7 separate regions of the Homo sapiens genome follow, and regions 1, 2, 4, 5, 6 and 7 are each reported to be linked to region 3. Evidence: microRNA targets listed by miRTarBase, many of them from high-throughput screens and not tested one by one. Region 3 holds a microRNA gene; each other region holds the end of a gene's coding sequence.

What was found. Region 3 holds the annotated microRNA hsa-miR-130a-5p (GCUCUUUUCACAUUGUGCUACU, at 2,248-2,269, shown strand). A microRNA usually pairs through its seed, bases 2 to 8, with sites in the 3' UTR of a target mRNA and lowers its output. Matches are read on the target gene's strand: a 7mer-m8 pairs with bases 2 to 8, a 7mer-A1 pairs with bases 2 to 7 and ends in A, and an 8mer does both.
Region 1: miRTarBase lists PALS2 as a target of hsa-miR-130a-5p. The part of its 3' UTR that is shown has no 7-base or 8-base seed match.
Region 2: miRTarBase lists TSNAX as a target of hsa-miR-130a-5p. The part of its 3' UTR that is shown has no 7-base or 8-base seed match.
Region 4: the mRNA of HS2ST1 is a reported target of hsa-miR-130a-5p. Seed matches in the 3' UTR shown: 7mer-m8 at 2,874-2,880.
Region 5: miRTarBase lists CEP57L1 as a target of hsa-miR-130a-5p. The part of its 3' UTR that is shown has no 7-base or 8-base seed match.
Region 6: the mRNA of CRLS1 is a reported target of hsa-miR-130a-5p. Seed matches in the 3' UTR shown: 8mer at 3,006-3,013, 7mer-m8 at 2,669-2,675 and 8mer at 1,971-1,978.
Region 7: the mRNA of RPP14 is a reported target of hsa-miR-130a-5p. The part of its 3' UTR that is shown has no 7-base or 8-base seed match.

Annotation. Positions count from the first base shown.
Region 1 is chr7:24,687,052-24,691,051 of GRCh38, forward strand. PALS2 (protein associated with LIN7 2, MAGUK p55 family member) reads left to right here. Exons shown (of 12, transcript NM_001303037.2): 12 at 387-4,000. The coding sequence ends at 563. Among named protein-coding and RNA genes, the nearest start is that of GSDME, 68 kb to the right of the region's middle.
Region 2 is chr1:231,564,689-231,568,688 of GRCh38, reverse strand. It overlaps TSNAX (translin associated factor X), which reads right to left. Exons shown (of 6, transcript NM_005999.3): 6 at 2,165-4,000. The coding sequence ends at 3,784. The region is part of intron 4 of TSNAX-DISC1 (TSNAX-DISC1 readthrough (NMD candidate)); the gene reads right to left. Among named protein-coding and RNA genes, the nearest start is that of TSNAX, 38 kb to the right of the region's middle.
Region 3 is chr11:57,638,965-57,643,060 of GRCh38, forward strand. MIR130A (microRNA 130a) reads left to right here and starts at 2,234; the gene lies at 2,234-2,322. The region is part of intron 1 of MIR130AHG (MIR130A host gene); the gene reads left to right. RefSeq lists an enhancer at 452-1,031.
Region 4 is chr1:87,104,312-87,108,407 of GRCh38, forward strand. It overlaps HS2ST1 (heparan sulfate 2-O-sulfotransferase 1), which reads left to right. Exons shown (of 7, transcript NM_012262.4): 7 at 159-4,096. The coding sequence ends at 385. Among named protein-coding and RNA genes, the nearest start is that of LINC01140, 23 kb to the right of the region's middle.
Region 5 is chr6:109,162,385-109,166,474 of GRCh38, forward strand. CEP57L1 (centrosomal protein 57 like 1) reads left to right here. Exons shown (of 11, transcript NM_001271852.3): 11 at 365-4,090. The coding sequence ends at 586. It also overlaps the pseudogene CCDC162P. Among named protein-coding and RNA genes, the nearest start is that of CEP57L1, 69 kb to the left of the region's middle.
Region 6 is chr20:6,036,605-6,040,700 of GRCh38, reverse strand. It overlaps CRLS1 (cardiolipin synthase 1), which reads right to left. Exons shown (of 7, transcript NM_019095.6): 7 at 648-3,627. The coding sequence ends at 3,543. LRRN4 (leucine rich repeat neuronal 4) reads left to right here. Exons shown (of 5, transcript NM_152611.5): 5 at 1-155. Among named protein-coding and RNA genes, the nearest start is that of LRRN4, 15 kb to the left of the region's middle.
Region 7 is chr3:58,316,989-58,321,082 of GRCh38, reverse strand. It overlaps RPP14 (ribonuclease P/MRP subunit p14), which reads right to left. Exons shown (of 6, transcript NM_007042.6): 5 at 4,090-4,094; 6 at 890-3,643. The coding sequence ends at 3,587. HTD2 (hydroxyacyl-thioester dehydratase type 2) reads right to left here. Exons shown (of 5, transcript NM_001348712.2): 4 at 4,090-4,094; 5 at 890-3,643. The coding sequence starts at 3,469. The coding sequence ends at 2,963. Among named protein-coding and RNA genes, the nearest start is that of HTD2, 13 kb to the right of the region's middle.

The DNA.
Region 1 (4,000 bases), not on the chromosome of region 3:
TGTTGTACATGGGCCATGAGATAAAAATCTTTCGAAAAGGATGATATAGTGGAGCTGGAAACCAGTCACCTGCAGTAATTGTTTTGTTACTGTAGATTCATTCCAAGATTATTTTCAGCAGTCTTTTAATTAGGAATTTTATCCTAATATAAGTGAGGCAAAAGATGCAGAATACTCATAAATGTAAACATGAGTGTTGTTGGAAAGAATAAGACATGAACAGATGGCAGTGTTGTCTTTAACACTATATGGATTAGATTTTGAAGATTAATACCAGAATTACCAGAAATATATCTAACCTATTTATTATATTCACTTCTAGTTGGAGTTTGAGCAAGTAAATATGCATTGTAATACAAACATTTCCTTTTAAAACTCTTCAACAGGACTCTGACTTGAAGAAAACAGTGGATGAAAGTGCACGGATTCAGAGAGCATACAACCACTATTTTGATTTGATCATCATAAATGATAATCTAGACAAAGCCTTTGAAAAACTGCAAACTGCCATAGAGAAACTGAGAATGGAACCACAGTGGGTCCCAATCAGCTGGGTTTACTGATGATTCAGTAAGGTTAACAATGAAAATTAAACTCTTAAAAAGTGACTGCAACAAATAAACCTTCTACTGAGAAAATACATCACAGATAGAAGATTATCTGCTAAGTCCAGGCATTTTTATGGTGTAGATTGAAATAATAGTACACTTCTGAATTTTTATATAAAATGTGGTTGGAAGGTGTACTAATATATAATTTATCTTAATTTTTCTAACTTTGTATGGATAATCTTTCTATTCATATCACATAAAGAAATGCGTTGAAGCATTTTGTATATGTTTTGATTTAGTACCCTTGCCTTTTTCATCAAAGGAATTTTCAAATCATTCACTCTAACATTGGTCTCATATTTTCACTGTGATAATGAATATTACTTGAAATAGTTTTGTAAAGCTGTCATTTAGTTCAGTATTCAAATAGTGAAGGGTTAGTCTTAATAGAAGAAAATATAGTTATTGACCTTCCTTCTTATAAATTTCTTACAAAAGCAGAATTTTAAGTCAGTGTTATAGCTAGTCTACTACCATCTAAATCTGACATCAAAAGTCTGATCAGTTTACGTATTTTCATTATTTCGGAGATGTATGGCTATCCATTCTAATTTATACAGCTATATTAGTTTTGTCTCTTCATTTCTATCTTTACTGAAAAATTGAAGAGCAATACCTTGCACTCTCTTTTGAGGTTATTCTTTTTATTTGTTGCAGTGATATGATGCTAACTAATTTAACATGTACACAGTAAGCTCTGGGGCTGGAAGCAAGGTCATGCAGACTGAGAGAGTGCCTTATCCTGTAAAACCTTACAGCAAAATGACACTTGAAGAAAGTTTATTTTCACATGTAAAATTTTGACTGACAAAAGGAACCTACTACTTTAAACAATGGTTTTATTAGAACATGGTCAGCAAATGTATCATGCCTCTGCAAATTTTAGTGATGTTTAGAGATGCCTCTAAGTTTGCAGTTGGAGGTTTTTGTGCTTTTAGAAATGTGATGTGATCCTTAGGGTACCTGTTTTGTCTGTTGTGTTGAGAACCAAACCCATTGAACAACTTAAAAAATTGGGAAATAATTGTCAGCTATTTTGTATACATACACACAAAATATATACATTATATAATATGTATATTATGTATTATATAATATATATAAAATGTTTTGTATATTTTTTACATATCTGTTAAAAAATGTACTTTGTTTTTTTGTTTGTTTGTTTTGAGATGGAGTCTCTCTCTGTCACCCATGCTGGAGTACAGTGGCGCGATCTCAGCCCGCTGCAACCTCTGCCTCCTGGGTTCATGCGACTCTCGTGCCTCAGCCTCCCAAGTAATTGAGATTACAGTTGGGTGCCACCATGTCCGGCTAATTTTTGTATTTTTAGTACAGATGGGGTTTCACCATGTTGGCCAGGGTGGTCTCGAGCTCCTGACCTCAAGTGATCCACCCACCTTGGCCTCCCAAAGTGCTGAGATTACAAGCATGAGCCACTGCACCTAGCCAAGAAGTGTACTTTTTGTTTAATGATTACCGAAAGAAGTTCTCCTTTAGAAGCATTGACTTATACAAATTCCCACATTCACCTCAGTTAATATCTTCCTTTAGGATTCTTGGATAATAGAAATTCTTCCTAAAACATACTCAGAGATGCAGCTCATTATTAAATTAAGGTAACCACATTCTGTATTGTTGCTAGCTTTTCATGTAAACATTATTCACACTTTAAAGGATTAGGTGTTTAAATATTGATGGTCATCTTTGTCTGGTGTTAGGTGCCAGACACCTGGCTGCTGAATTTGTTTTTTCCCTCACCAAAGTTGTCATTTGGAACGCCAGCTGGGAGGACTTTGAAGGAAAAGAAAATATATGACAATAGGCAGTATTGACACATTGTTTAAAATCTTTTTCACAATAAAACAAAACACCCAAGTTGTCATATTGTTAAAGTTGGAAATCTATAGGTTTTTCTTTTTTTTTTTTTTTTTCTTTTTTTGATTCTAGATTTCATGGCCAGAACACAAATTCACGTTTCTTGTCCTAGGACAGGGAATTGGTGACAAAATGGATTATACTATTTTAATAACAGTGGAAACTTTCAAACTACATGTGTTTACACCAAATTCTTGGCTTCTCAAAGCAACATGAATTAAAGCACAGTATCAAGGTGATGCCCTATGACAATGTTTCAACACACACTTGAAATTTTAAGAGAAATTTCAGTTCTTCACTCAGGAAATGTGCTGTATTCTCTAATGTACTTTCATGCTGCAGCATGGAGCCTCTTTAAACAGCTTTGGGATAATTATAGCAGCACAAGAAGTTTATCTGCAAAATATTTCAATCATCTTGGTACAATAGATGACTTTTACATCATGTATATTAGCCTTATGTGATATAAAATGTATTACTTAGAAAATATACTTAAAGGAATTATTTCTATTATAAATGGTATTCATGATTGACTACTTAATTAATGCACATTAGATTTCTCCTAATATAAAATGAAATGATGCAGTTTAGTTCATTTCAGTCTAGATGCCCGTACTAACAAGAATACAGTTAGATAAGTTCATTGTATCTCAATGAAGAATCATTGAACTTGAAACCCAAGTCCCAAATGAATCTGCAGGAATGAGCAGTGCTCTGCGGGGGCAAACAGCCCCAGAGGTCCCAGGGTTCTTCCTAGGTAATGAGAGTATAGCTGTGATCAAGGAAATGTGAACTTCTCTTTTGGGAAGATCTGCGATAATTAGCTTTATGGAAGCGAAAATGGTTTAGAGTGGTGTTGAGCAATTGTTAAGAGTTGAAATAGACACACACATGCATGTGCTTTTGGGAAACATGATGTGCCAACGTATTAATGTGCCTGAGGGCTCCTTGTGGATAGGTCAGTGTCCACATTTCAGCACTCAGGGCATGACTGTACACAACCTAAGACTATATATATATTTTTTCATTTTCAAATGTACAAATACCCATAGAGGTGATGTGCCTGGATAAGTCATTTAACCATAGCTTAGTGAAATAAATGTGATGGCCCTAAAAAGTAGAATTTTCACTTTCATTACAGCCATGCCTTTATTATGCAGTCTCCATTTCTGTGTGATATTTGGTAATATCACATGTCAAATACATCAGGACTTTGTTTATTTTGGCTAACTCTAACTATACAATTGCTGAACATAGCTTTCTGAAATAGAAATTATAAGAGAAACCCAGTATGCCTACAGCATTAGTAGCCTAAATCCTAGATTCTAGAATCCAATAAATTTATAGTAGTTCTTAAGAAGTTTCCTTTAAAGCAACAAATAGATTATTAAGGCAAATTTAGATAATAACCCAAGTTAGCAATAAAACCATGTGACATTATAGATTATGTCCAGATACTAACTGCTTTGACCATAATATCCCAATGACAATAAAAAATGATCCTTGGTTTA
Region 2 (4,000 bases), not on the chromosome of region 3:
GGCTGAGACAGGAGGATTGCTTGAACCCAGAAGGCGGAGGTTGCAGTGAGCCGAGATCGCACCACTGCCCATTTTTACTTCTGTATGGTTGGTAGTAACGTTCCCTCGTTCATTCCTGATCTTAGTAATTTGAGTCTTTTTCTCTTCATCAGTTTAGCCAAAGGTTAATTTTGTTGATCTTCACGAAGAGTCAACTTTTGGTTTTGTTGCTATTCTCAATTATTTATTATTATTATTTTTGGATGGAGTCTCGCTCTGTCACCCAGGCTGGAGTGCAGTGGCTCACTGCAACCTCCGCCTCCTGGGTTCAAGAGATTCTCCTGCCTCAGCCTCCCAAGTAGCTAGGAATACAGGCACATGCCACCACACCCAACTAACTTTTGTATTTTTTAGTAGAGACAAGGTGTCGCCATGTTGGCCAGACTGGTCTCGAGCTCCTGACCTCAGGTGATCCACCGGCCTCGGCCTCCCAAGTGCTGGGATTACAGGTGTGAGCTGCCACACCCAGCCCTCAATTGTTTTTCTCTTCTGTATTTCGTATTTCTGCTAAAATCTTTATTACCTTTCTTCTGCTTCTTTTGTGGTTTACTTTGCCCTTCTTTTTCTAATTTCTTAAGGCTGAAGTTTAGCTTATTAATTTGAAACCTTCTTTAAATGCAGGCATTTAAAGCTATAAAGTTCTATCTCAACACAGCTCCACTGCATCCCATATGCTATTGTATATCAACTTTTTCTTTCCATTCACCCCCAAGTATTTTCTAATTTCCCTGTGATTTCATCTTTGATCCACTGGTTACTTAGGAGTACATTGTTTAACTTCCACCTATTAGTAAATTATACCACTTTCCTTCTATTGATTTATAGTTTCATTCCATTGTGGTAAGAGAACACATTTTGTATGATTTCAGTATTTTTAAGTTTATTGAGATGTTTTGTGGTCTGAAATTTTGCAAAGAATGTTTCATGTGCACTTGAGAAAAATATGCATTCTGCTGTTCAGTGGAGTGTTCTGTATATATGTCTGTTAAATCCAATTGGTCTACAGAGTGGTTCAAGTTCCTTACTGATCTTCTGTCATGGTGTCCTAGCCATTGGAAGTGGGGTACTGAAATCTACAATGATTACTGTTGAATTGTCTATTTCTCTCCACTTAAATTTTGCTTTATGTATTTTGGGGCTCTGTTAGAAATATGTGTGTACACGTATATACACACGTATATAATTGGTACGTATTCTTGATGGGTTGAGTGTTTTATTGTATGTTGTTTCTGGCAAAAAATAATTTTCTTGAAGTCTATTTTGTTGGATATTATTCATATAACCACTCTAGCTCTCTTTCGGTTATTGTTTGCATGGAGTATCTTTTTCCATCCTTTTACTTTCAATCTACTTGTGTGTCTGAATCTAAAGTAACTCTTATGTAGACATAAAGGGACTGAATTTTCAAATCTGTTCTGCCAATCTAATTTAAATATCATCTTTCTTTGAGACACCTTCAAAAAGCCCCAGCGCACTCAATGTGTACTTTAAAAATCACTGATGTAGGCTGCGCGCAGTGGCTCACGCCTGTAATCCCAGCACTTTGGGAGGCTGAAGTGAGAGGATCACTTGAGGTCAGGTGTTTGAGACCAACCTGGCCAACATGATGAAAATGCCATCTCTACTAAAAATAGAAAATTAGCCAGGCATGGTGGCATGTGCTTGTAATCCCAGCTACTCGGGAGGCTGAGGAAGGAAAATCGCTTGAACCCAGGAAGTGGAGGCTGAAGTGAGCCAAGATCATGCCACTGCACTCCAGTCTGGGCAATAGAGAGAGACTAAGTCTAAAAAAATAAAAAAATTCACTGATGTAATACATGCTGGAAATTATTTATGAAAGAACCCAATATTCTTTCAGAATTTTGTCAGTAACTTACCATGTGACCTAGAACCAGTTTCTTTTTCTATTAAAGATGAAAACTGTTACCACACATGATGCCATCATAGTAAGTATTTTTAAAAGTGAGACTCAGAGTTGGCGTAACACCCACAGTATTAGTATGACATGAACTGTGGAGATATATCAGTAGCAATGGCACCAACTCACCTGTAGTGAGTTGACTACAGGTGAGTTGCAAAACCAAAAAACCCACCATCACTAACACGAACAAACAAAAAAACAGAATTTACTAGGCATGTCCATGTTTTATTTTCTTTAGGTGTTTTTCTGGAAAATTACATTTTCAAGGAATCAGCCCTTACAAACAGAGCTAATCTTTCAAAAAATAAAACCCAGTATCTAGATTCTCAAAACTTACAAAACCAACTGGAAATGTCTGGTTGTCATGCTCAATTCAGTTTCACATCACAAGTAATCATCTATAACTATTTCAGTAGGCAAATTCCAATTCTAAATATTACTAACGATTACCATTGTTATTCTCAACTGTGTTGACAATTGTCTTATTGCTGAATTGTTCATAATACATCTTCTTTGGCAACTTTATTAACACCATGGGACAACTAAAGGTCTGGATTAACTTAGTATTTCAAAACTTCATTATAATTATTTAAAAGTAAATGCTAGACTTAAATTATTTAAATTTAAATGCTAGATTTAAATTATTTAATTTTAATAAAATTTAAATTTAAATGCTAGAATAGGAAAGCCTCCAAACATGCCTAATATAACAAAAACAAAAATTGCTAAATAATCACTACTAAAAGCATTTCCATTGTATGTACAAGTATATAACTCAACTTTACCAACAAAAATATTATAATTTAGCTCCAATTCTCTATCAGACCTACTGTGATTAAAAAAAAACAAAAAATAAATGGAGAAAGCAACATCTGGGCACCTGTCAAATTTTTATGGAAGGTTGTTTTATATAAATTTTAAATGGCTTAAAATCAGCCAGAATGCGAATTTTTCACTATAATACTTTATAAACTTGTACTTTCTTTTTTCTTTCTTTCTTTTTTTGAGATGGAGTCTTGCTCTGTTACCCAGGCTGGAGTGCAGTGGCGCAATCTCGGCTCACTGCAACCTCTGCCTCCCAGGTTCAAGCGAGTCTCCTGCCTCAGCCTCCCAAGTAGCTGGGATTACAGGCACATACCACCATATCCAGCTAATTTTTGTATTTCTAGTAGAGACGAGGTTTCGCCACGTTGGTCAGGCTGGTCTTGATCTCTTGACCTCGTGATCTGCCTACCTCGGCCTCCCAAAGTGCTGGGATTACAGGCGTGAGCCACCACGCCCAGCCTAAACTTGTACTTAAATTATATATTGATAGCTTATTCATTTTTAATTCTTGTTCCATGGAATAAGCCTATTTTTGAGGCTTGGCACGATATTAACAAGAAATTTAAACAGGACGCTCATGTCCAGAAGTTTAACTAAAAAATCTTTTCTATATATAATATAACTACCAACTTAAATTACAAATTGCTTCCACTAAAAATTATCACTCCAAACTTCAGAAAAAGTAAATTAAAATAGGTTATGGCAAAAGGTACACTCTGAAGCATGTTCACATTACAAAGATAAATGATAAAGGTTAACCAGCAAAAATTCAAAAAGGCATATATGCAAACATCTGTATGCAAACTTTCATGAATAAGATATAAGAAATGATTCATTTGGCTAATTTTATGTACAGCTTGTATACAATTTAAAACAAGTACAACTGAATATGTTTCTATGTAAAAGCCACAATAAAGTTAAATGAAATACTAAATAAGTCTTACAAATTGGTCTCTTAGGAGTTCTCAAAAGAATTAGTAACTGAGTAACGTTAGATTCTAAGAAATGCCCTCTTCTTGATCTATCATTTCTGTTTTAACTGAAAACACATCTGCCAACATATGTTTTGGAATTTCTGACCCTCTGACTTTCAAGGCATAACAAGCATTCTCCACTTTGGCCAAACTTTGTTTCAAGGTATACAGCTTCTTAGAAACCTCGTAAGGTCCAGTGTTGCCAATGAATGAAAACCCATCATAAACCTGACGTAAAAAC
Region 3 (4,096 bases):
TTGTGTGCGAGGGCGTGGAGTGTTCCGAGGGGGACCGGGGGCCGAAGGGCTGGAGCAGGGCAGGGAGTTCTGCACCTCCAGAAGTTGTAGGGTGAGCCAGGGGCGGTGTGGGGGTGTGAGGCTGGTTTTCGAGCTGATAGTTGTGGGGTGTTGAGGGGTGCGGGGATGTGTGTGTGTGGGGGGCGTGCGCTCACACTCCAGTTCTTGTTGTTTGGGTGTGTAATGAGGGCTGAGTTGTGCAGCAAGTATGGCTGAGAGTTTGTGTGTGTGTGTGTGTGTGTGTGTGGTGTGTACGTGCGCCTGTGTGGTCCAGCCTCGAGGTGTGTGTGTTCGGGGGGAGCACAGTTGGGTGTTGAAGGAGAGCGCCCCTCACCCCCCACTTCCCAGCTGCCTCTCTCATCCCATTCACAGAACATGGCTTTCAGGACCCTCCTGGTCTCCTCCTCCCGTCGCCATGGCTGCGAGGAGGGGGTGGGAGGAGACAGTTGGGGCCAGCCCCCTGCCCCTGCTGCTCCAGCTAACCCCCCACCTGCCCTTTCTCTCCCTTTCACAGGCTGGGCCCCATCCCCTGCTGCTCTGGGGGCAGGGGCCGGAAGATGGTGGCCAATGAGGAGGGGGAGAGGAGAGAACTTGAGCCGGGGCCTCCCCTCCCCCATTTCCTCCTCGGTCTCTACACTCGCTTCTGGAAGGAGCTGGGGGCTGGCTCCTGGGCCCAAGGTGGGGGAGGGGTCCTGCTGGCTGGTGAGTCGCTGGGCCTGCTCCTCAGGAATGAGTTGGGTGTGTGAGAGCTGAGGGGCTCTTGGCCCTTTCTCCCTGCACTCCCTAAGGAGAGACCTGGAAACTTCTTGGGGAAGAATCTTCCCCTGGCCTCCCTGAAGCTTGCTGTGCAGCCTTATCTTTGCCCCTCTGCCCCCTGTTGGTGTGATCCAGTTCCCAGCTGGGCCTGGTTTGCCCAACCCCAGAGCAGAGAGGTCACTGACCCTCGAGGGGTCTTGGTTTCCGCCCATTAAAACTGTAGGGCAGGGCCCCATGTTTGCAGATTACGGGAACAAACTCTGCCGGGGAGAGCGGGAGGGAACGTCTCCTGCTTCCTGAGGGGGTGGGACGAGGCTAGAGGGAAGCCCAGAGGAAGAGCTCCCAACTGGAATTCTGTCCTCTATTCCTTACGGTGGCTGTGGATTAGGGAAGAAGGCATCTCCCCTTCGTTGATCGGGGCACTGGAGGAATCACCCTCCAGCCTCTGTTTCTCTGGGCTGCCCAAAGTTCACTGGGTCAGAACTGGAGCTGGGCTCCGGGGCTGTGGCCCTAGCTGGAATGTGCCACAATAGAGCCTGCCTGGGTCTGAGCCTCCAGATATCCAGGTGTCCTTCCAGGGCAGCTTTCTGGCTTTGGGTGTTAATCTTCCGGGGACTGTTTGTCCTGTATTTAAGCCCCCTTAGGGTTGGATAGGATGGGGAAGTGCTAGGATGAGCTTGAAGACTCCCCAACCAAGGGTCCCTGGATAAGACAGGAAATAACTCAGATGTGAATCCCACTGCCAGTGAAAGCCTATCCCTAACTCTCAGTAACTGTGAGCGAATCACCCTCACCATTTTAATGCTGAATCTGCAAAGTGCTTTCAGGACCTCCAAAAGGAGATGCAGGGGTGGGGCTTCACCAGCAGCTTTCACCTCCCCGCCTGGAAGCTTCTCTCTACTGCGTGGGGAGCTGTGACTACAGGCTCCCACCTCTCTGGTCCTGGAAGGTCATCTGAGAGTGTTGCCTTGAGGCCTAGAGCTCTGCTTTATCTAAATTTAAAAGGAGATGGAAACTTAGAGAAGAGTAGAGGGTTCTGTAGTCTTGGGCAGCAAGCTCCTCTCTAGAAGGTAAGCTAGCGGAAATGCAAATCCAGATGAACACAGCCTCATACGAGTGACCTCCAGACTTTGGGGATTGCTAATAGCCGTTTTCTTTGAGGACTGAGCATCAAGCCCGAAGTATCCCTGCAGCTGCTTTAGTGGGTCCTGTCCTCCCATGCCAAAACCTCCAAGAAAAAGGTGGTCTCTGTGCTGGGGGTCAGGGGGTTGGTGAAGAAGGCGGCAAAAGGAAGAGTGGTGAAAAAATAGAATGAACACTAAGAATGGAATAAAAGGGAAAAAAGCTGTATTGAAGCAAAGAAGGGGCAGAGGGAGCCCGTGAGCTGAGTGGGCCAGGGACTGGGAGAAGGAGTGAGGAGGCAGGGCCGGCATGCCTCTGCTGCTGGCCAGAGCTCTTTTCACATTGTGCTACTGTCTGCACCTGTCACTAGCAGTGCAATGTTAAAAGGGCATTGGCCGTGTAGTGCTACCCAGCGCTGGCTGCCTCCTCAGCATTGCAATTCCTCTCCCATCTGGGCACCAGTCAGCTACCCTGGTGGGAATCTGGGTAGCCTCACTTGTTAGTTATACTAATAGCTCTCATTTATGGAACTACTTCTGTATGCAGTGCTTGTGATAGACACTGCCTCCGTTACTGTGAAACCTAATAACTTCTGGGAGGTAACAGCCCCATTTTATGGATGAAAAACTGAGGGTCAGAAAGGTTTAAACAGTTTGGCTAAGATTGTGTAGCTCTTAGGTTGCAAAGCCTAGATACAACCCTGTGTTAAGTCTTGACAGCTCACTCATCTTTTTGTAGACCCATCTGGAGAGATCTGAATAGGTTCTTCAAACTGGGAGATTTCCTGAGCTGAGGGGTGGAAGGTTTTGATGCCATCTGCTGGTTGTATGAGGATATCTTCCAAAGCCTCAAACCTTTAAGGACCAGAAGTGGTGGCAACTCCTTAGGCTAAGAAGGATAAGCATTCCCAGACTCAGCCCGGAATGGAGAGTGAGTGGAAAAAGATTAGGAGAATCACTATTAGGTACAGAGTAGGCCTCCTTGAGAAAAAAAGGAATGCACCAGAAAGGAAAGGGGGTTAACTCGAGAGGATTGCTCCCCAAAGAAAAGGACCTGTGTGCTGCTGGCATCCCATACCTACAGCTCCTTCCCTGGCTCATGAGGCATGGAAAGACCTCACTCCTTCCCTGAATCCACTTACCTTTCTCAGCACCACTCCCTCTTGGTCACGGGGTGTTTGATGGTAATGCTGCTTGAGGGCACACCTGTCTGGGCATCCAAGATTTGGACAGCGTTGCCCATGACTTAATCTTAAAGATTAATAGGATCCCTTGAATCAACCCACAGAATGATTCTCCCAGGACCAATTACAAGGAAATTGAGGCCGGGTGCGGTGGCTCACGCCTGTAATCCCAACACTTTGGGAGGCCGAGGCGGGCGGATCACCTGAGGTCAGGGGTTCAAGACCAGCCTGGCCAACATGGTGAAACCTCGTCTCTACTAAAAATACAAAAATTAGCCAGGCGTGGTAATGCACGCCTGTAGTCTCAGCTACTTGGGTGGCTGAGGCAGGAGACTCTTGAATGAATCTTGGAGGCAGAAGTTGAAGTGAGCCGAGATTGCGCCACTGCACTCCAGCCTGGGCAACAGAGCGAGACTCCATCTCAAAAAAAAAAAAAAAGAAAGAAAAATTTGAGAGCAATGACTCAGCCATTTACTTCTCTGTCTCCCACAGTGCCTAGTAGGCTTAATTAAAACTTGTTAAAATAAATTGAATGAGAGGAATATTTGGGGAGCTTCTTTAAGAAGGCAGCTAGTATTCCTGGTCTTTTGGCTAAGATCAAGTGAAGAAGGCAGCTAGTTTGTGCCTGGTTTTCAACAGCAGAGTTTGGGACTTGAGAAATCTTCCCTAAACTTTGGTGCAAGAAATGGGTCCAAGAGGAATAGGGTTTTGAGGTCCTCTGCTGGACCCTGAGAGGGATCTTGGCATCATGAGGCATGTAGAAACTGAAAGATGGGTCAGACTCCCCTGAGGCCTTAGTTGAGGGATGTTGGACATCTCTCCATGGCTTGCCTTTTTCCCTTGCCCTTTTACTTCTGTGCCTTCCAGTTCTAGTCCTCCTTTCTCCTGCCCAGACAGCCTCTCCATTCTGATCACAACAACAGTATTTGAGATAGTACAGTTAGCTTTATTTCCCTTTTTTTTTTTTTTTTAAGACAGAATCTCACTGTCGCCCAG
Region 4 (4,096 bases), not on the chromosome of region 3:
TTGATCAAGGCTCCGTTTTTACCTGAATTATATAAGACAATTATGTTACCTGTTCTTAATGTGTCATATTAACCACCTCTTCAAATAAAGAGGCATTGATCTTTTGTGTGTTCTCCAAGAATTATTTACCTTTCCTTTTTTTCCCCCTTTGTAAGTAGGAAAGAAATCTCATCTTAGGAAAACCACAGAGAAGAAACTCCCCACTAAACAAACCATTGCAAAACTACAGCAATCTGATATTTGGAAAATGGAGAATGAGTTCTATGAATTTGCACTAGAGCAGTTCCAATTCATCAGAGCCCATGCCGTTCGAGAAAAAGATGGAGACCTCTACATCCTCGCACAAAACTTTTTCTATGAAAAGATTTACCCTAAGTCGAACTGAGTATAAGGTGTGACTATTGGATTCTTGAACTAAAATTTGACCCTGTCTTCACCTTTGTTCTCAGCTCCACAGTCTGGATTGCTGACAGTAGGTGTATATGACAATTTGTATTGAGCCAAATTAGGAAACAGACAGTAACGTCAAGGAAGTAGATACTGGCTGGCATTGTCAGTGTTCTAAGTTTCAGGCATTTTTATTTTTCCTGGCTAAACGTTGGTGAAAGTTATAACCTCCTGCCTGGGAGAAAATATACATCACCTAAAATGAACTTATGGCAGGTCTAATCAAAAGGCTAAATACAATTTCAGAAAAGGTTCTGATACTCTTGTTTTTGATAAAGCATTTTTTCAACTAACCATGAATTAAGATGAGTCCATTTGCCTCTTCTGCCTTCACTGAGGGTTTGGGTTATACACCTCTACTGAATTGTGTTAATAACTGTTTGGCAGTGTGTACTTTGTTTTTGTGAGTCATGTCTCATGAAATTTATTGGAATGTTTAATCATATTTGCTAAGAAATGTTTCTGCTGTAGTTGGATTTGCCCATATTTATGTAGGTGGTTTTAATTTTTTAAATGGTGATTAGTGTTAAAAATCAATTTAAATCATGACTAATATGGTAAAAAGATAAAGCATCAAAGCAGTATTTCTCATTCCTGCCTCCTCAATATCTAATACTGGGAAGATACTTCAAAGAATATTGAGATTGTCTGAAGTTTTAGTTAAGATTTTCACACATTAATATCAAAAAAGTAAGTTTAGTATTTGTTTCTCCATGGGTTATTTGTAAAGCTGTAAACTGAGATATCGGTGACTCCGTATTATGACTCCATTAGTGAGCTGTGGTATGGGTAGGATTTTCCTACTTCTTCTGTACTTTTACCTGTAGACTATTTTTACTAAGGTGCTTTATAATGTGTTTTAAAGCATTGCATTTACAAAACAAGGAAAATGCTGTAAATATTGCATATTTTATGTATTTGGACCAAAAGGTTACAAGTAATTAGACAAAAGTGGTTTTGCACCAATTTTATGTCAAGTAAAACCATCAGACCTACTGTTCTTGTATTTCTCATTTAACTTTACTGTTAAGACATCACTGAAATGAACTTCAGTAAGCTTTCAATTTTGATACACAGTTCATTATTCATAACTTGAGGCAGTAATTACAGTGGAATGAGTACTGGACAAGGAGTCAAAAAACTTGATTTCAGGTCCTAGCTCTAGCACTTACAGCTGTGTGATCTTGGGCAAGTCACTTAACCTCTCTTTGCCTCAATTTCCTCATCTTGAAATGAGGATAATAATACCTGCTGTACCTACCTCACAGGGCTGTTGTGAGGATTAAATGAGATGGCATGTGAAAGCACTTTGAAAATTGTAAAGCGCTATGTAAATGTAAGGTATTATAGAAACATCTTTAACATATAGTTTCATACCATTCATTTTTTAACAAAGAAAGGGAAAAGTCTGCTTGTAAGCTGGTTGAAAAAGTTAATCTTGATATAAATTTGTGTTTGATAAATATCCTCTCAGTGTTTTATCTTCCATGTTTCAACAACTATTGAAATATGAAATGCCTGTGAACTCTTAAAGCTTCATGAGCAGCTGCTTGAGTTCAGGAAGTTCACTGTTAGAAATAGGCTTTGTTAGCTGACTAGGGTCAGGGAAACTTTTCTCTTCAAATTTGAAAGCTGTTTCTGTTTTCATTTTACATTATTATTCAGAAATGGTAGCTATTCTATACCTATGGTTTAAGTAAATATTTCTGAATAAGGCTTCACCATACTGTAAGCATTTTAGGTAGATTGCCTTAAAGGTTATGGGAGGGCATGAGGGAACACTTCTTATGAGAAAACATTTATAAACAAAAGAAACATTTATAAACTAAAGAAAAACTAAAAGAATGACAGAACAATCATCTTAGCACCCTTTCCTCACAATAATATAAAAATATTAAAAGAACATAGGCAGGCTTTTTTTAAATTTGGCTTTTTTCTTTCCTTTTTTCAAATTGACTTTTATAGGTATTTCCTGAAAGTGTATACAAATTATTTCCTCGCCCAAAATAAAGCACCACTTCAAGGTGTGGTTTGACATTACATGCTAATGAACAAACCCAGTATGCAAGTTATTCTTGCACCACATGCTCAAATCTTCTTGAGGTGCATTAACTCTTTTAGGTAACTAGAGCAGTACTTGGTGAACTAGATCAGGAGGTCAGTAAACTTTCTGTGGAAGGGCCAGAGAGTAAATATTTTAGGCTTTGCAGCCCATACGGTCTCTGTCACAGCTAGTCAACCCTGCCATTTTACCACAAAAGCAGCAATAGACATTATGTAAACAAATGAGCACAGTTATGTTCCAATAAAACTTTATTTACAAAAACAGATGACATCCCAGATGCAGACCATGGGCAACCAACCATTGCACTGGCCAAATCATTATTTATGGAGAAATCCTCTTTGTGTCTCTACTCTAGATGCCTAAAAGAGTTTATATACTTCTAAAAGCTCCTAACTTATATCCAAAGAATTGCTTTCTGATTCGTGTAGTCTCTCCCACAGATTCATAAACTTTTATGACTTATATTGTTTCCAGGTGGGCATGGTTTATTTCCCAGTTTAACAGTTCAGAATAGGGGCATTTATTTTATCATATTTTAGGGTGGGTTAGGAGTATCCTTTCTGGAGACTGAGAAAGGGGTGTATTTAATTCCATCAGGTCCAGTACAGTACTAGGAGTCATAATACTTTATAATCAATTAAATAAATAGAACCACTGAGACAATAATGTATTTTTTTAAAGTGGCAAATGTGGTTTTCTTTTTTCAGCCTTTGCGCTTTTTCAGTATTTTGACCATAGGGAGATAATTTTTTTATAATACAAAAGTAACCACTTGGAATTTTAAAGATAATGTTATGTGTGTATGTGAAATATATATACATATATATATATATGTTTATTTCCTAAAAGAAGAAAAGATACCTTTCTGTTCAACTTGTATCAACTCCTCTTTTCTAATTGCTGTGAAATGGCAACTGTTGATAAATTATTGTGATTGTTTTAAAATCTAATGGGAAGTAAAATATATTTTGATTTTACCCAGCTTAATCTGTAAAGTAGCACTTAAATATATCTGATAGCAACACTTAAGATATTGCATGGGGATTACTTTCCTATCATCCATATGCATTTGTGCAACTTCAAACATATTGGGTGCTTCTGAATTCCTGATGATTGGATTTAAGCTATTGAAAATTGGATAATTTAAACTTAATGATTTTTATAATTTTCTGATCTTAAAATTTGGTTAATGCCTATAATCTGTTGCTTTTTCTCAATATGTGTCCTATTGGAAATTCCTCAAATCGTTGGTGCCATCAGTGATTTACAAACAATATTTTGATATTGCAGATGACTTGCTTACTGTATTTGCATTGTTAGAAAACAGTTTGTAGACAATGATTCTTTTTTAATAAAATCAAATAATTCTAAAAGTGCTAGAGAATTTAACTAAAAGCTGGTTCCCAAATGCATAGCTGGCATTTTAATTTAAATTCAAATCTACATAGAGAACATCTGTGTAAATCATCTAACTGGATTTTTCCATTGGTCATTCCCAAACACACCTATGGTCCTAGAATCCTTAAGAGAAGCACCCTGTAACCTTTTATGTGGTTTGCCTTTAAGAGGCCCAGGTGCTTCTCC
Region 5 (4,090 bases), not on the chromosome of region 3:
TCCCTCAATCTCTGCAGCCCATGTTGACCTTATCCGACTTTGGCCTTCTTACATATACACTTTTTGTCTTATTCAAAGTTATCCTGGCTCAGAGTATTCTCTAGTTGTCACATATGTGCTTTTTTTCACTAATAGGAGCAGTAAGCTCCTTGAAAGTAAGAGCTTTTTTCTCATTATATTTCTACCTGACAAGCACAGTGTTAGGCATGTAATAGATGTTCAATAAATTAAAAACTTAATGAATTGAATTTTTTAATGTTCAATTTTAACTTTTTAACGTTAAACCATCAATTCAACCTATCTATTTTGGAATATATTTTTAGTATATTTTTGACTAAAATGTTAGATTTTTTTTTCTCTCCAGGTCTGTAAACTGCAGCAAAAAGTTCAAAACTCAAAGATGAGTGAAGCTTCAGGTATTCAGCAAGAAGACAGCTACCCTAAAGGATCAAAGAACATAAAAAATAGCCCCAGAAAATGTTTGACTGACACTAACCTTTTTCAGAAAAACAGCAGCTTTCATCCAATACGAGTTCATAATCTTCAAATGAAATTGAGAAGAGATGATATCATGTGGGAACAGTAACAAAACAGCAAAACTGTCACCTTAATGAACTTTGTCAGTGAGACCTTGAATTGTCTAAAGTGGTTTTAATTTAATATAACTTTGTGACATTTTGAATCATGTTTCTAGTTTCTATAAAACATGAAGTTGCAGTATTTAAAAATTAATGCCTAATGACCTGGTGGGTTCCAAATAATAAATTAATTGCTTTTTTATTTTTCTTATTGATTGAAGCCCGTAACCTCATCTTGTCTTAGAAACATTGTTGGCTTTGCAGATATCTTAAGCTAAATTTAAGAAATTGTACTAGATTGACAATATTCAAAATTGAGTTAAATCCAAGCTACAAGTACCATTCATTCCACTTTTCATTTAGTAGGTTTGGAACCTTAAAAACCAATGTTCAATGAACAGAGTTCAGAAAGATCATTTAGCTTTCCTGGTGCCTTCTTTCTATTTTGTTTTAGAGCTGTGAAATGTTTTTCTCTTTTGGAAAAGGAAAAACTTAATAGTTACACAGTTTTGTGAAGAAGCCTTTAATCCAAGTTTTATGAGACAGTAGGAACCTATAGCTACTTAATTTTTAGGAGACAGTAATTCAGTTGCAGAAGCTTTCCTCTGCTATTCCCATTCTCTTTTACAAAACTAGTTTTTTTTAAAAAATCAATGATCAATTTTATCTTACTACTTTATAACTTTTGCTGACTTTTATTCTTTGCATTGTATGTAATGTCCATCAGTATAAATTGAGACTGTGAATTTCTAGGACCCACAAAAGTGGTATTTTTTTTTTGTACAAGAAAGTATAGAGGAAGAGGAAGCTGGGCATTAAATTACCTCATCCAGCAGAAATTCACGGTAGTATGGTATATTTTTATTTTTTATATTTTAAAATCAATAATGTCAAATGTCATTGTGTATGCATGCTTTATAATAAATTTACACTTGATCATTTTTCTGGAAGCCTATGGGAACTAGTACAACTCTTCTGAACTCTTGGTTTCTCACTCAAATCCTCTGAGGCAACTGGGGAACTAGAGTCATGAACTGAATTAGAAATAGAGGACAGAGAGAAAAGATATAATAGAATGGAGGAGCTCAAATATAGGGTAGCAGTTTAAGAGATGGTGATTCCTAAGGGACAGAGTTGGAAGTACATATTTACTGAATTCTTTGAACCCACAGCTGATGGAATGTTCAAGCTATAGATGTGAAAGAATTTTTAGGTCAGGATCTTGGGAAGCTAAGGAGAGCAATTTTTAAAAGACAGTTTTTCTGTTTTCCTAGGAAATTCCCAAGAAGCTTGTGTAGGAAAAAGTTGGTAATTATGGATCTTTTGGGGAGGAAGAGAACTATAATTCATTCTAATGGTGAGGAGAGATACCATGTTAGAATACCTTCCATACCTGGAAGTGGGGAAGTGACTGAAGATGGGCACATTGATGCTTGAAATTGTCCTTGAAAGTAGTTAATGGCAGAGATCAAAATTTCCTCCTGTTGTAAATAGTGCATGTGCCCTTTGCCAGCTTTCACTCCCACTCATTCACACCCTTAGCTCCTCAGCCCTGGAGATGTTCCATAGGGTGTTTGATCTAAACTCAGTTGCATCACCTTACCTGTTTTTCTACTTTGCCTTTCCTCCTTGAGGATATGAGTTTTATAGCTTAAGCTTAGCTTTTTGCTAAACTTTTTAGCTTTCTGCTATCCACCAGGACCATAATGCAGACCTATAGTTCTGTGCCTTTGTTTTCTATACATTTAGGAAGGTGGCTGAATATATTTAGTTATTAATAATTCATTACTTGTGAAAAGGTATTGCTTTAAAAATTATCATTAAAAATTTAAAAACCGTCCAGGCGCGGTGGCTCACACCTATAATCCCAGCACTTTGGGAGGCCGAGGCAGGCAGATCACGAGGTCAGGAGATTGAGACCATCCTGGCCAACATGTGAAACCCTGTCTCTACTAAATTACAAAAATTAGCCGGGTGTGGTGGCGCATGCCTGTAATCCCAGCTACTTGGGAGACTGAGGCAGGGGAATCGCTTGAACCTGGGAGATGGAGGTTGCAGTGAGCTGAGATCTCACCACTGTACTCCAGCCTGGTGACACAGCAAGACTCTGTCTCAAAAAAAAAAAAAAAAATTAAAACCATTTTAGGAACATGGAATATTTCAACTGAGAATTTTCTTAAAAATTAGTCCAGTGTAGTAGAAAAAACCACAACTTCAGAGCTAGGAAACTTGGTTTCAAATTCTGGGACTCTACCATTTAATAGCTTGGACAAGTCAGATAACTTTCTGGAGCCTCAGTTTCTCATCTGTAAAGTGAGGATTATACTAATATCTCCCTCACAGGACTATACTAATTTGTTGTGAGGAGTTAATGAAATAACATGGGAAAGCACCCAGCAGAAGAGTTGACACTTATTAAACACTCAATAAATATTTTTTGAATCTGAGTGGCAAAAAAAAAAAAAAAATGTAGAACACATGTTTGCATGGGTTGAAGCCTAAAAGCAAACACCTAAATATATTATTGGTAAAAGTGGGAATATTCTCACTTATTTTGGTTTTTATCTCTTTCTGTGTGCCTGAAGGGAAATGGCTTTGTCATCTTTCCTAGCCCAGGTTTCTAATGGGAGGGGGTAAAGAACACAGTCCTGTCATTGTGCTGAAACATGTAACCACACACAGCAAATAGGTTTGGAGTATGGTGTGGTTGTTGAGGTGACATTTATTATTGAGAGACAATGAAGAATGGTGTCTTGTTGCTTCATCACAGCTACTGAACTCACAGACTGCCTGCTTGCCAGAGCCTTTGACTCCTCAGGGGGTGGAGCAAAAGATTTCTTTCCTGGATGGAGCAGTCAGTCTATGGTCAGTGTAAGAGTTGCTGTAGCAACCTCACAGCTGTGCTCTGTCTAGCAGAAACTTGGTATGATTTCACGGATTTTGTTCACTTAAGTAAAAAACAGATTTGTTTGGTTTTTATGTAATTAGAAATTGAAATAATGGAATTGGAATTTTCTAGCCAAGGCAGGTCTCAATTTTGATGAAACTGAAGCCAGAAAGTTCCAGTGTTTGAAGCAGCAGGTATTGTGACTATATTCTGATACTGGAAATGGGAGTTGGAATCCTGAATTAACTGTACTTGGGTGGATCATTGGCAACCCAGCCATTTTTATTAGGTTGTAGATAAAGACAGGAGGGTCAGAGGGAAATGTTCAGTTTTCAACAATGTAAGATTAAAGTGGGAGATACTTAGTACATAGTAAGTTAACTGGCTGGGATAATGTAGATAATGTACTTGAAAATTATTTTTGAGCTTTTTTGGTAGCTTTCTTACTTTATTCCTTTTTTTCTATACCTGCCAGTAGATGTGAGAGCTTTTCTTACTTTAAAAGTGTAATTTTAACTATAAATGTATATTCTTTTTTTTTTTTTTTTGGTGGGCATGGAGTCTCGCTGTGTCACCCAGGCTAGAGTGCAGTGGCACGATCTCAGCTCACTGCAACCTCCACCTC
Region 6 (4,096 bases), not on the chromosome of region 3:
TGGACGTAGGAAGGGATGAAACAGAGAAGTTGCATAACCCAGCCTCTTTGATCATGTTAGAAATCACATCCTCAGGTCTTTCCAGCGGAAGCTCCTTCATGGTCAAGCTCTAAGACACAACGAGCTCTGTTATTCAAGAAATCAATTCCAGTGGATTTCCAGTTCCAATTCCTGAGAACTAGGGTAAGGGGGAGAGCTAATGGTTGCTTCCTAAGGCCTTCTGGGTTTATTAGTTCCATTTCAGGACATGACAAGAAAATGTACTCCCGGCTTTACAGTTAAAACCAGTTTTCTGGGAACATTTGTCAAACACAGGGAAAGGCTGTCCTTTTAAGTTAGTGTTTACTGCATTTCACCTAAGACTAAATGGACAAATGAATTATAAATTCATTTTTTAGGAGGCATAATAAACTTTGGAAATATTTTTTCTTAATTAGAGGGAAGAAATGAGCAAAAGAGAACCCGAGGCTCTAGCTAGAAGCCCGTGTTTCTCTGCCCTAATTGCATCAAACAATGCCTTAATAATCTGTGTCTTCATGTGGGAGGCATCTACTCTGTCCTCTACTTTTTCACTTTTATGCAAACTCAGGGGAAACTCAGGGGAAAAAATGATTCTATGAAATTATAATTAGAGCCATATTTCTAGATTTTAATTTTCAACATTGGCATTTATTAATTTCCTGCAGCTGCTGTAACAAGTTACCACAAACTGGTAAAAATGGCTTAAAAGAACAGAAATTTATTTTCCTACAGTTCAGGCCGGAAATCCCAAATCAAAGCATCAGTGGGGTTGGTTCCTCTTGGAGGCTCCGAGGGAGTTGTTCCATCTCCTCTCCCAGCTTCGGATGGTTGGCAGCAATCCTCAGTATTCCTTAGCTCGCAGACATCATTCCAATCTATCCCTCCATCATCTCACGGCATTCTCTCTCTGTTCACATTTCCTTTTTTTTTTTTTTTAACAAAAAAACCTAGTTATTGGGGCCCACTGTAATCCAGTATGATCTAATTCTATCTTGACTGCATCTAAAAAGACCCTATTTCCAAATAAGGTCACATGTACAGTACTGGGGGTTTGAACGTGAACGTATCTTTCTTGGGAGATGCGATTCAAGCCACAAGAGCATTTACTTCTACTGTAAGAAGAAAACAAATCGAGTTTAAATCCTATGTATCTTTTGTTTCCAAACCATGCTGCAGAAACTAAAACTGAACTGCACTATATATATTTCTAGGTGTCTGAAGTTTTGAAAGAGCTTCCCAAAACTTTAAGGTAGATCCCTAGTTTCATCATAAATGTAACTAAAAGAATTGGCCTAAATGATTTCAAAGATCTCCACCAGCTCCTGGTTAAAAACTGCAAAGCTATGATGTTGTGGGCTTGTAAAAAAAACAAAATACACACACACACACACACACACACACACACACACACACACACAAACAAAACTGCAAAGCACAGTTGGTGTGCACCTGTAATCCCAGCTACTTGGGAAGCTGAGGTGAAAGGGTCACTTGGGCTCAGGAATGAGGCCCCGACTAAAATTCGCTGCAAAAGCCCAAAATCTAGTTAGCATAAATTCCTCAGACATGTAATTAAATGACACTAATGCTTTAAGCTTACTGTCAAGGTTAAGTCTATTCAGTGAAGACAATGAAATGAATTTTCATCATGTTTTGAGTCTATAAACAAGTACATACTCAGACATGTCTAATACAATTCCAGTGTTTTATAAACTGGCAGAATTGATGTGTTTTATAACAATTCAGTATCCAAAAGCCTGAGGAGACTTGGACCATTTTCCTAAGGGATGAAGCGGGAAACGTTTATTAACCAGAGCCAGATTGAGACCTTAATAATAAAAAGATATGGGTCCAACCCATAGGTCACTCCAAATGGCATCAACACTAAACCATAAATAAGCGTTAACAAAGTGCAAAGTTCTAAATTTTCGCATAGCTACTTCAAGTCCTCTCTTTTTTAAACATTATTCTTATGTGGCTCACCCGTCACTAATGCTCAGTGTGCCTCTTGGGTGGCTCAGCAGTGGGAAGTCCACTTTCAGCCTAACTACTCCTAACAATGAAGCTGTTCTCCAGAGAGCAAGAATAGCCAGCCACATGCCCCCTTCTCTGCTTTTTCATCCCCCTCCATCTGATTCAATGGCGGTGTCCCTGGCTGCAGGCTTCAGTATGCTTCAAGCCAAGCGCAGCTCAGCTGCCAGTCTGAGAACAACCAGGACCAGCAAGCCACAGAGGGACACGCTGGTGCAGAATGCCTGGCCAAGAGGCATGAGTTTTACTTACAGCCTCCCATTCTAATTTAATGCAGCTCAACAGGCTGAGAATGGATAATCTCACTGCAGTATTCCATAATAGGCTTGGATTAAAACCAGGGACAATGGGCAGCAATAGGCCATAGGTTAAGCAGCAGCAACTAGTCACCACTGGACTGTCTTCTTCTCCCCTTCCCCATATCCCACATTCTCCTAAACATGATGTACGTGTAGCAACAGTCTTTTAAAGTCAGATGGTCAGACTAATTATTTTTACAATTTAAGTGTAAGTGATGTACATGAATGGACTCTGTGAATCGGAAAACTTACGTAACAGCAGAGAATACGTATGTTATATGGAACAACCTGAGTTGAAGGTACAATTTTTTTTCCAGCTCTTTTATTCCTTTAACTGCTTAACAAAAGAAAGAGTCTCCAAAGTTTAAAAAACCTTTGAAAAATATACAGCTTGATATTATTTACATAAAATATGAATCCAGGTTCCAATATCAAACAAACATTGCTATGTCAGAAACACAGTGGAAGGCAGGAACGTAACTCACTGCCTTTTAGATGCAAAGACTAATAGACACGTTCTCCTATCTCGACTATCTTTGTTACCTGTTATCCTCAAACATAAATTATTAGGCACCTGAGAGGTTGGAAGACTACCGAAAATGAACTTCATACCTTCTGTATGATTATTATCTTAAAAAGTTACCGCATTTTTAATCTCTTTTATAACTTTACTTCATCTACAACTAACTTCACTTTCATTATCCCAAATGATCAGGTATTAATTACATGAACTGTTAATGTATACACAGACCTAAAAATCAAACAAAAATGTATTGCCCAGTTGTGTAGGATATATATTTGAACCCCATGACATTTCCTAGTGCTTTGTGAGCAATCCAAATTTCACTTAAAAGAGAGGTGTCAATTCTGCCCATGCTCTGGACTATGTTTTTAAAAAACATACAAAAAAGACTGACAATAATTGATCTCTTATAAATTAATCAAGAAACCTAAGATTAAAAATTCTAAATTACAATTTTATTTGTATTTAAAAATACATTGGAAATTCTGCATATTCCCATGATCAACCTTATTTTCAATGCACATTACTTAAATTTTGATGACACAGTTGATTCTGACAAGTCCTTTTTCAAGCTGAACACCAAAATAGGGAAACTCCTGTACATTTCCATGGGCCCTGTTCCCATTGATGTATACTGCTTCCTTACTAACAGTGAGGGATGACTTTCATCAGTCTTTTATCACCTGAACAGTCTTCCGGCCATAATGATAGTAACTATAAGCTGATGCAGCTGTGGTGAAAGCTGTAAAACACCTTTTATGGAAGAAAAGAAATAAAATGTAGTTGTCAAGTCTAAAAAATAGTAGCAACGGGAATCATAATGAATACATGCAATGAATTTAAAATGTAAAAATGAATTTAAAAAGTAAAAAGGGCTCTGTGGTGTAATTTTTCTTAACTACAAGAGTCTAAATACACTGCTTTTCTTTAAGAGTTCATTTTAATTAGTAACGTCAAACAAAATTATTCTAGATAATGAGCCCTACAAATTACTACTACTAGCAACTGTCATTTTTTACTCGGGCATCCTCTAGGTGTCTTACATTCTCATTTTATTCTTACAACGAACTCATCCTCCAGAAGGACTTCATCCTCCAGAAGGACTCATCCTCCAGAAGGACTCATCCTCCAAAGGACTTCTCCAGAAGGGGGAAATGGAAGACCCGGGTAACTTGCTCAGGGCTTATCACAGAACTATGTTTGAGCCTGACTTCGTTTGAAC
Region 7 (4,094 bases), not on the chromosome of region 3:
AGGGGCACGATCTCAGCTCAATGCAACCTCCACCTCCCAGTTCAAGCAATCTTCCTGCCTCAGCCTCCGAGTAGCTGGGATTACAGGCACGCACCACCACACCCAGTTAATTTTTTTGTATTCTTAGTAGAGATGGGGTTTCATCATGATGGCCAGGATGGTCTCAATCTCTTGACCTCGACCTCGTGATCCGCCTGCCTTGGCCTCCCAAAGTGCTGAGAATTACAGGCATGAGCCACCACGCCTGGCCTAGAATAATTCTTTCTAGTTGTCTGTTCAGCTGCTCTCTGGGTAAAAATTAAAAATTCTGTCATAGATTGTCTTGAATGTGTTGGCTGACATTAGAGAAATGGAAATCATAACTACAATGAGATACCACCTCATGCCCAATAGTAATTTGAACAACAATTTGACAATTCTTTATAATATTAAAGTTACATGATCCAGCAATTCCACTCCTAGAATTTAAAACCTGTCGGCCAGGCGCAATGGCTAACGCCTGTAATCCCAGCACTTTGGGAGGCCGAGGCAGGCAGATCACGAGGTCAGGAGATCGAGACCATCCCGGTTAACACGGTGAAACCCCGTCTCTATTAAAAATACAAAAAATTAGCCGGGCGTGGTTGCAGGCGCCTGTAGTCCCAGCTACTTGGGAGGCTGAGGCAGGAGAATGGCCTGAACCCAGGAGGAGGAGCTTGCAGTGAGCTGGGATCGCACCACTGCACTCCAGCCTGGGCGACAGAGCAAGACTCCATCTCAAAAAAGAAAAAAAGAAAATATATATATATATATATATTTAAAACCTGTGCACATAAAAACCTCTTCTATAATGTTCATAACATTATTTTTAACAGCCCAAAAGCGAAAATAATCCAAATATCAACTGATGTATGGGTAAATACAATGGAATATTATTCAGCCATAAAATAAAATGATGTACTGATACATGCTGTAACATGGATGAACCCTGAAAACATGCTATATCAAAGAAGCCAGTTCCAAAGGATCATACATTGTATGAACTTTTATGAAATGTCCAGAACAGGGAAACCCATAGAGACAGAAAGTAGACTGGTGATTCCCAAAGACTGGAGGAGAGAAATGGATTGACTGCTAATGGGAGGTTCTTTTGGGGGTGATGAAAAATGCTATAAAAAATTGATTTGGTGATGGTTGTACAACTTTGTGGATATTCTGAAAACCACTAAACTGTACACTTTTAAAAGGTGAATTTTATGGTATGTGAATTATATCTCAATTTTATTAAAAAACGGGAAACAAAAAAAAATGGGAAACAAAAGTGTTGGCTGTGTTGGGATGGCCATTTAGTAGTAACATGTTAGGCACATCTCCCCTTCAATATAACCTCCCTGACCCCAGCCCCCAAAGTCTTAAGAATTTGGCCTCCATAATCTTCTTAATATTTATTTCTTACAATTTTTTTTTTTTTACTATAAGCATGTATTACTCATAATAATGGGAGGTAGATCCAAATTTTCAAGGAATAATCTGAACTTTTATAACAGAAACTGTACTTAAGAACACTAATAGAGGTTGGCTGACACCCTGAAAAACTGGTCTGTTACGTTTAACTGTGGGCCAGTCAGCTTCAAACTCAGGAAAACCTCTCACCTCAGTTGCAGGGGAAATGGGCAACAATAATAGTAGCTACTGCTGACAGGCTGGGCCCTGTGCTTAACTCCATCTATCATCTCCACCAACTATCCCACATGGCATGTGCTACCACTATTTTACAGATCAGACCGTTTACATAACTGAGACCGAGGATGCACATACGCCCCTCCCCTGAAACGCAAGTCTCACTGAAGGTAGACTAAGATGCCACCTTGGTGTAAATAACAAATTACAATAAACTCTGACTCAGATACTGAAGAACAGTCTAAAAATATTCATTGATAAAAGGTAGGTGTTCAAAGATGACCCAACTTCTATTTTCGCCTTCAATAATTGTTACACAGTTAAAATACAGTGACAAGCTGCTTCCACATGGCTATAGGTAGGGATTTGTTATCCAAATGCAAATCTATCTAGGTCTGAATTTCTAAAAGTAGAATCTTTTTTTTTTTTTTGAGGTGGAGTTTTGCTCTGTCACCCAGGCTGAAGTGCAGTGGTGTGATTTCAGCTCACTGCAACCTCCCAGGTTCAAGAGATTCTCCTGCCTCAGCCTCCCAAGTAGCTGGGATTACAGGTGCCCGCCACCATGCCCGGTTAGTTTTTGTATTTTTAGTAGAGATGGGGTTTCACATGTTGGCCAGGCTGGTCTTGAACTCCTGACCTCAAGTGATTCGCCTGCCTCAGCCTCCCAAAATGCTGGGATTACAGGCGTGAGCTGCCACGCCTGATTTAAAAGTAGAGTCTTTAAATAACCTTCCCAATACTTCTTTCTTGAGACAGGGTCTCGCTCTGTCACTCAGGCTACAGTGCAGTGGTGCAATCTCAGTTTCTCACCATAACCTCCAGCTCTCAGGCCCAAGCAATTCTCCCACCTCAGCCTCCCAAGCAACTGGGACTACAGGGCCAAGTCACCAAGCACAGCTAGTTGCACTTTTTTTTTTTTTTTTTTTTTGGTAGAGATGGGGTTTCACCATGTTGGCCAGGCTGGTCTTGGACTCCTGACCTCAAGTGATCCGCCTGCCGCAGCCTCCCAAAGTGCCAGGATTACAGGCATGAGCCACCGGGCCCAGCCTACTTCTTGAATTAAAAAACAAAAAACAAACAAAAAACCCAGGCAGATAATGAAATCCTGCATACACTCAAGTCTGCATGAAGCATAAGGCCAAACTGGAAAGTGGGCATTTGAACAACCCTCTTCCTGCTCCCTTCCCCTAACTAAGATGGGCTTCTGGGCCTATCAACCATTCTTTGGTAAAGAGCAGCAATTCCCCATAGGCTCTTTAACAACAGCATTGGTGTTTGAGGTTGCATCTTTAAAACATCTATTTCAGGATTTGGAAGCTTCTGGAACCATAACTTTAACCCAGCCTTCCATAACAGTCTTTTTACTTTCTATTACAGAACATGACACTGCAATAATAGCAATGAACCGCTTCAGCTTTTTCACTTCTGCAGAAGCTAAAACAACTTCTCCAATATATAAAGGGGCTGGAAAGCTAATTTCCTGGGAAAGAAATACACAGCCTGGCCCTGGCATTTTAGTTCCTAGGAGAGCTGAGATAAGTCCGTTGATCAAAACTCCATGTACAATTGTATTTCCAAACTTGGTGTGTTTTGCAAAGTCTTCATTCAAATGCAAAGGATTGACATCCCCTGTTAATTCTGAGAAGGTAGCCACATCAGTCTGTGTGAAGGCCCTCCTAAGTTCAGCGCGGTCTCCAACTTTGATGTGCATATGCTGAAAGTGCTGCAGGGTCAGCACTGGCAGGTTCAGACAGACTGTCCTCCGAAGCCCACCCCACCAAAGGTGATGGCTGGAAATTAGTGGGAACATCTTCAGCACCCTCAAATTTCATCAAGAGCTTTTAGCCTGCTTCAGTCTTCAAACATGCAGGCACCAAAAAATAAATATGAGAGTGGATGAACGTTTCCAAAATGGAAGACTATTCATTCAATCCAATACTAGTTCCCTACTATTACCAGATAATGCAAGAAGAAATGGAGAAACCTAGAAGAGAAAGAAAAAGGTTAAGGCATTGGGAGAAACCACACTGAAGCACAGGGCAATGGGGAAACATGCCCAGTTTTACAGGATAAACAAAGCTGATGCAGGAGCATTTTACAGAGCATCCTGAGAGGAAGCCTTCGATAACAAGTGGTCACATCTCAAAAAGAGCGTACCAATATATAACACACAAGGCATTAAGTGTTAAATAAAAAAAGTAAGCCTTAACCACAGGGTTGCAAGTTTTATCCCAAAACATCTCCCATAGATTTTAAAATCTAAGTGCTCTGTCTCACATTTTTGGAAACAATCAAGTCCTTTATTTTCCCCTACTTAGATCATTTTAACCATATTACATTTATGCAAGCACAAAAATGAGTTGTGTATATTAAGAAGCAGTTGACCCATCACTCAGTCTTGTTTGGAATATGTGAGGGAATAGTCTTTACCTGAA